2 linked regions of the Homo sapiens genome follow. The main gene of each other region encodes a partner of the protein of the gene in region 2 in a complex. Each region holds a gene or a part of one and is shown on either strand. Other genes may lie near its edges.

Evidence for each region.
Region 1: the proteins of ITGA4 (region 2) and YWHAZ are in contact, whole or in part, in a crystal structure (PDB 4HKC), measured with the Homo sapiens proteins. Residues at the interface, in NP_000876.3 of Homo sapiens: Arg1007, Gln1008, Tyr1009, Lys1010, Ser1011, Ile1012, Leu1013; in NP_001129171.1 of Homo sapiens: Lys49, Arg56, Lys120, Arg127, Tyr128, Glu131, Gly169, Leu172, Asn173, Val176, Tyr179, Glu180, Ile217, Leu220, Asn224, Leu227, Trp228.

Annotation. Positions count from the first base shown.
Region 1 is NC_000008.11:100,915,859-100,918,684, forward strand, and holds the end of YWHAZ (14-3-3 protein zeta/delta), read right to left. Parts: 3' UTR 665-2,826; downstream 1-664.
Region 2 is NC_000002.12:181,530,289-181,534,115, reverse strand, and holds part of ITGA4 (integrin alpha-4 isoform 1 preproprotein), read right to left. Parts: intron 3,593-3,827; coding exon 3,467-3,592; intron 2,460-3,466; coding exon 2,340-2,459; intron 1-2,339. UniProt on the Homo sapiens protein: Integrins alpha-4/beta-1 (VLA-4) and alpha-4/beta-7 are receptors for fibronectin. They recognize one or more domains within the alternatively spliced CS-1 and CS-5 regions of fibronectin. They are also receptors for VCAM1.

The sequences.
Region 1 (2,826 bases), on a different chromosome or scaffold from region 2:
TTTCTCCTCCCCCTACAGACATCAGCTGCATGGACAACTGCATCATTAATAACCATGGGAGTTTTGGCTAAGAAAATGCATATTCCTGGGCTCCAACCTAAATATTCAGAATTCTTGAAACTGAATGCTGAGAATAGGCATTTAAAACGAGTTCCCCTCGGGAGTCTAGACATAGCCTATTTTTTATACTCCCACATAGCCCCCAAACCCAAACCTACAAGCACATGTTAAGTTCTTAATTCCCTGCATCTTGATTGTGCTGTATATCCATTTGGGTCCCATTCTGCAAATCTTCACTCAAACATGAATCTCTAAGCGCCCCCCGCCCTTTTTTTTTTTGACAGAGTTTTGCTCTTGTTGCCCAGGCTGGAGTACAATGGCATGATCTTGGCTCACTGCAACGTCCGCCTCTCGGGTTCAAGCAATTCTCCTGCCTCAGCCTCCCGAGGAGCTGGGATTACAGGCACGCACCACCATGCCCGGCTAAATTTTTTGTATTTTTAGTAGAGATGGGGTCTCACCATGTTGGCCAGGCTGGTCTCAAACACCTGACCTCAGGTGATCCACCCGCCTCAGCCTCCCAAAGTGCTGGGATTACAGGCGTGAGCCACCACACCCAGCCAGAATCTCTAAGCCTTTGTAAGAAAACACACAGAACAGCAGCTGGCCAAAGCAAACATCCAATGTTAGAAAATGTAAGCACAAACTGAAAATTCATAGGGTTTTAAATTCTAAAATTCGGAATACTAAGAAGTAATCAATTAAGACCAGTTAGGTTTGGACTTTCAAGGAATGAACTCAAATATGATCAAATATTCACATCTCTGGTATCACCTAGGATTGGCTAACATTATGCTTAAATATATTAACTTGTAACTGCTTCTGCATCCCAGAGACATATATGCCTGCTTGTCTGGCAAGGTTGGACATCCTGTTACAATCTATATTCAGGTCTCTCCACTTTGAAAAGGAACTAGAATCAATCAAGGAGACTGTGACTACTACCAGTCACATAAAAGTATTTAATTAGTTTCACACTTAGAAAAGAATCCAAGTCTATTTTCCAAGTGCCCAGTCTCAGCCACCACTTTACTATTGTACATATTTTCAGTTCTACCATAGTATTTCCTATATGGTAAATGAGAGAATACAATCAAGCCAAATTTATTTCTTGACCTTTCCCTAGAGGAATGTGTAAGACCATCATTGAGCATAGAGCACCAGTTTTCAAAGTCAAAGTTTCACTCTCCATTTGAAGCCTGACTACAAATAACCTAAGATAGCAGCTTCCAAATTGGCTTTGACTCATTTTAAAATATGCATTGAGCCATGACAAGACTGGTGACTCTTTTGCAGGAAAAACATAATAAACAAATTGAGCCCCAAAATTAAGCCACTAGACATATTCTTTCTCTTTCTCCCCCCACCCCCTATAACAGCATGAAGTAACAGCTGTTAACTGGAAAAACAAAGACCATAAGCCAGAGCTGCAGGAAAGCCCATCGTTTTTACTAATCACACTGCTGCTCCACTTTCTGAAGGACAACTCTTAAGTGGCCAATTTAAAAAAAACATACCAGGGTGGGCACAGTGGCTCACGCCTGTAATCCCAGCACTTTGGGAGGCCGAGGTGGGCGGATCACAAGGTCAGGAGAATGAGACCATCATGGCTAACACGGTGAAACCCTCTCTCTACTAAAAATACAAATAATTAGCCAGGAGTGGTGGCACATGCCTGCAGTCCCAGCTACTTGCGAGGCTGAGGCAGGAGAATCACTTCAGCCTGGGAGGAGAAGGTTGCAGTGAGCCGAGATCAGGCCACTGCACCCCAGCCTGGGCGAGAGTTGACACTCCGTCTTAAAAACAAACGAACAAAAAAATTCCAGTACTTTACACACAAAAAGTCATTGGATTTTCCAATTTCCTGGCACTAGGATGTTACATTGACAAAAGCAGACGTAAAGCCTGGATTTGGGACAATCAAGGAATAGTTACAAACACATTATTCAAATTCCAAAACAAAGAATCTCAGGTTGGAAATTTTCCTTAATCTATTGGGAACTACTATGTAGAAAACATTAGTTAATACTAGTGAAGTGTTTTCATTATTCCAGGATCAACCTAGTTCAGATGACTGATGCACATTAAATAGGCAAATGTGCCAAGTTTCAGGTTTTATTTACTTGAATAATATCACATCTCTACTGGGCGCGGTGGCTTATGCCTGTAATCCCAGCACTTTGGGAGGTTGAGATGGGCGGATTGCCTGAGGTCGGGAATTCAAGACCAGCCTGGACAACATGGTGAAACCCTGTCTCTACTAAAAACACAAAAATTAGCCAGGTGTGGTGGCGGGCACCTGTAATCCCAGCTACTTGGGAGGCTGAGGCAGGAGAATCGCTTGAACCCAGCAGGCGGAGGTTGCACTCAGCCGAGATCGCACCACTGCACTCAAGCCTGGGTGACAGAGCAAGACTCTTGTCTCCAAAAAAAAAAAAAACAACAAAAAAATTCCCACCTCTTCAGTCTAGCTATAAAATATAATTACTTTATATATATATATATATATATATATATATATATATAATTATTTTACCTCCTTGGCTTGGGGGTCAGGAGAAATCAGTAAGTGAGGTAAAAGAAAGAGCTGCGAGGGAAAAGGATTGTTGCCCTAGATGCAGAAGGTATCTTTTCTCCTGGAAATAAAGACCCCAAGGTCTCCATTGCACTTTTATTTGAATGTAATATTTGGGACAATTATTCAAAAGGGCCAATATTTCCCAATTTAATCTGAGGTCATAATAAAACAAGCAACAAAACAGTGTT
Region 2 (3,827 bases):
GTGTGGTCTTGGTATTAATTTATATAGTATCATTTTATTGAAATCCTTTGATTAAACAGCTACCTTGCAAATAACTTGATTTAAATATTAGACTACAGAAAGAGGTAAGTTACCATTTACCATTGTTCTCCACCCCACCACCGCATATTGAATCTATCTTATTTGGGCTTTTTATTTCTTTCTAAATTAAATACATTATAGAATTCAAATATAAAATCAGTGGATGAACTCAGAACTTTACTATCTAAAGCAAGGATTTTATAACGCAGAATCCATGAAGCTTGGGGATCTGTAGAAGGGCTTTATAAATTCTAAGAATCTTTAGGAGATGTTTTCATGTGTGCATTTGCTGAGGGAGATGAGAATATATTTAGTCAGATTCTTAAAGAGGGATATGACCTTTAAAACTATTGTGTAAATGTTATTTAACATTTTAGAGCCAAAAATGACAAGCTTCCTATAGATCTAGAGCAGTGGTTCTCAGCAGGGAGGGTTTTATCACCTAAGGGACAGTCAGGAATGTCTAAAGAAACTGTCAAGTGTCAGAACGTGGGAGGTGGTACTACCAGCAGTGAGCGTATAGAGGCTGAGGATGATACTAAATATCCTACAATGCACAGGACAACCCCCCAAAACAAAATTATCTGGTTCAAAATGCCAATTATGGCCACTGATGGAAAACCTAGACCTAGAGAAAAAGATAAGGCAAACTGCAAAAGGTTAAATGACTTGCTGATGGTTCAATGACTTTGCTTTTAGCACAGTTGAAACTAAAATGGATATTTCTTCTTTGCCTGTCTAGTGTATCTTCCTCTTAAGCACTGTTTGGCAATTTCAAGAATTCCACTTGAACATAACAGCTGCCATTTCCTTTGGCTTCCTATGTTCCATGAACTAAGTGCTTATAAAAATCATCTCATTTATCCATATTGAACAGATGAGAAAGCTGAAAAACAGAACTCCACATAAAACTAGTTTCATCTCAAACTACTCCTCATAAATATACATGCTCCTTTGTAGGAAAAAGTCCAAGATATATTTCATTATTTTTAAAATTTAAATATGTTTTTGTTGTTGAATTTTGATTTTATTTGATTTTATGAAAGCCTTAGTTTTTCTTCTTAGCTATATTTTTAAAATAAAAGGGCTTCAATAAAATTCATCATCCCTTCATGCTAAAAACTCTCAATAAACTAGGTGTTGATGGAACATATCTCAATAAGAGCTATTTATGACAAACCCATAGCCAATATCATACTGAATGGGCAAAAACTGGAAGCATTCCCTTTGAAAACCGTCACAAGACAAGGATGCCCTCTCTCACCACTCCTATTCAACACAGTATTGGAAGTTCTGGCCAGGGCAATCAGGCAAGAGAAAGCAACAAAGGGTATTCAAATAGGAAGAGAGGAAGTCAAATTGTTTGCAGGTGACATGATTGTATATTTAGAAAACTCCATGGTCTCAGCCCCAAAACTCCTTAAGCTTATAAGCAACTTCAGCAAAGTCTCAGGATACAAAAATCAATGTGCAAAAGTCACAAGCATTCGTATACAATAATAGACAAGCAGAGAGCCAAATCATGAGTGAATTCCCATTCACTACAAACAGAATAAAATACCTAGGAATCCAACTTACAAGGGATGTGAAGGACCTCTTCAAGGAGCACTACAAACCACTGCTCAAGGAAATAAGAGGACACAAACAAATGGAAAAAAATATTCTATGCTCATGGATAGGAAGAATCAATATCGTGAAAATGGCCATACTGCCCAAAGTAATTTACAGATTCAAGGCTACTCCCATCAAGCTACCATTGACTTTCTTCACAGAATTAGAAAAAACTACTTTAAATTTCCTATGGAACCATAAAAGAGCCCATATAGTCAAGACAATCCTAAGCAAAAAGAAAGCTGGAGGCATCAGGCTACCCGACTTCAAACTGTACTACAAGGCTAACCAAAACAGATACAGAGGCCAATGGAACAGAACAGAGACCTCAGAAATAACACCAGACATCTACCTAGGAATACAACTGGTCTCGAACTCCTGGCCTCAAGTGATCCTCCTGCCTTGGCCTCCCAAAGTGCTGGGATTACAGGCATGAGCCACTGTGCCTGGCCTATTTTAGCCTTTATTACCTGTTAATTTCTAAAGCCATTTCACTTAGTCAATGTAGATAGTTGAAGTGATAGAAATACAGTTTTAGAGTTTTACTCCAAAATTTTATTTAAAATTTAATTTGTTGAATGCCTTCATACTATCCTGCCTATATGACTGAATTTATAGATTTTATGTAAACTTAGCCACCAAGTTGTCAATGTTTTAGACTTACTTACCATTTCTAAAATGGATGGCCGGCCTTCCAGTTGGATATGAACACTGGCTTCTTTTCCACTTTCCATTTTCCCAAAATTACACAAGAAATTTAAACAATGTGGATCAGCTTTTATGCAGTACTTGAAGGGAATATAAAAGTGCTACATTAAAATTTTCAACATTGGAAAATATTTTTAAAATATTTTATATAGAATTTAATATATACTCTAATGGCATTTTGAAAATCATCTTTCCATAAATATGAAATTAAACATCTGCTTTCCTTAGTGGCATTTAAATTACCTTTAAACAAGACATGAATGTTTGTTTTCTAAATTATAATAAAGTATTTAAACTGCAGCATATGTTCTTATTATTTGTATTAACATAATCTTCTGGGACAGAATTTTTAAAAAATGTTCCTAATCAGAGTCTTGCTAAGTTACGTATTCTTTGTTTGTTGTAAAACGTGGATCATTTCAAGGTGATGAATGCTTCTCCAGTTTCTTTTCATACATTCACTAAGCTGAAAAGAATGAAAATTAACCCATGCCACAAAGGCTGCCCAGGTGAAGACAACCTCTTGGTGTCCTGAAGGGTCTGGAACAATGTCTTGTTGGCAAATAGTGGGCATTTGTTAGATAAAAAAATGAAACTGTATAACATTTTTTTTTTTCTTTTTGAGATGGAGTCTTGCTCTGTCACCCAGGCTGGAGTGCAGTGGCGTGATCTCGGCTCACTGCAACCTCCACCTCCCGGATTCAAGCAATTCTCCTGCCTCAGCCTCCTGAGTAGCTGGGATTACAGGCACCTGTCTAATTTTTGTATTTTTAGTAGAGACGGGGTTTCACTCTGTTGGCCAGGCTGGTCTCGAACTCCTGACCTTGTGATCTGCCCACCTCGGCCTCCCAAAGTGCTGGGATTACAGGCGTGAGCCATCACACCCGGCCAACATGTTTATATATGGGATAGACCCTGGGTCTATCTCAACTTTCCAACCATGCTTGTTCCTTCCACGCAAGAATACTACCTAAACTTGTCTTCTCTCTTATTATTGAAGTGACAGCTCAAACCCATTGACTTGATTTTAAGTGTCTCACTTCTCTGTTGGAAAGCAGGAACTACAACCTGAAAAACTGAAACTTACCAATAGCCTCTTATCAGTCTTGGACAAGAACCGGACTATGCCTTTCAAGGTCTGCATTGCACTCTTTTGCTGCTCTAATGCACACACTCTTTGATAATTTTCAAAGTGGCATTCTCCAGTAGTAGTCTATGAAGACAGAAAGCAAGAGAAATCTTATCTTTCAACACTGGAAAAAACAGCAAAAAGCAACCTGGTTTTAAAAGTTCCAGTAGCTTATCTTTGCTAAAATATATCAAGTACCTCTGAAATTGTAGAAATTTTTTTGACAGATTTGGGAGTGATTAAATGTCTGTGGCAGAAACACAAAAACCCAGCCAAATTACAGCAGGTTGGATATAGGTTCTAAGCTGATAAAATGGCC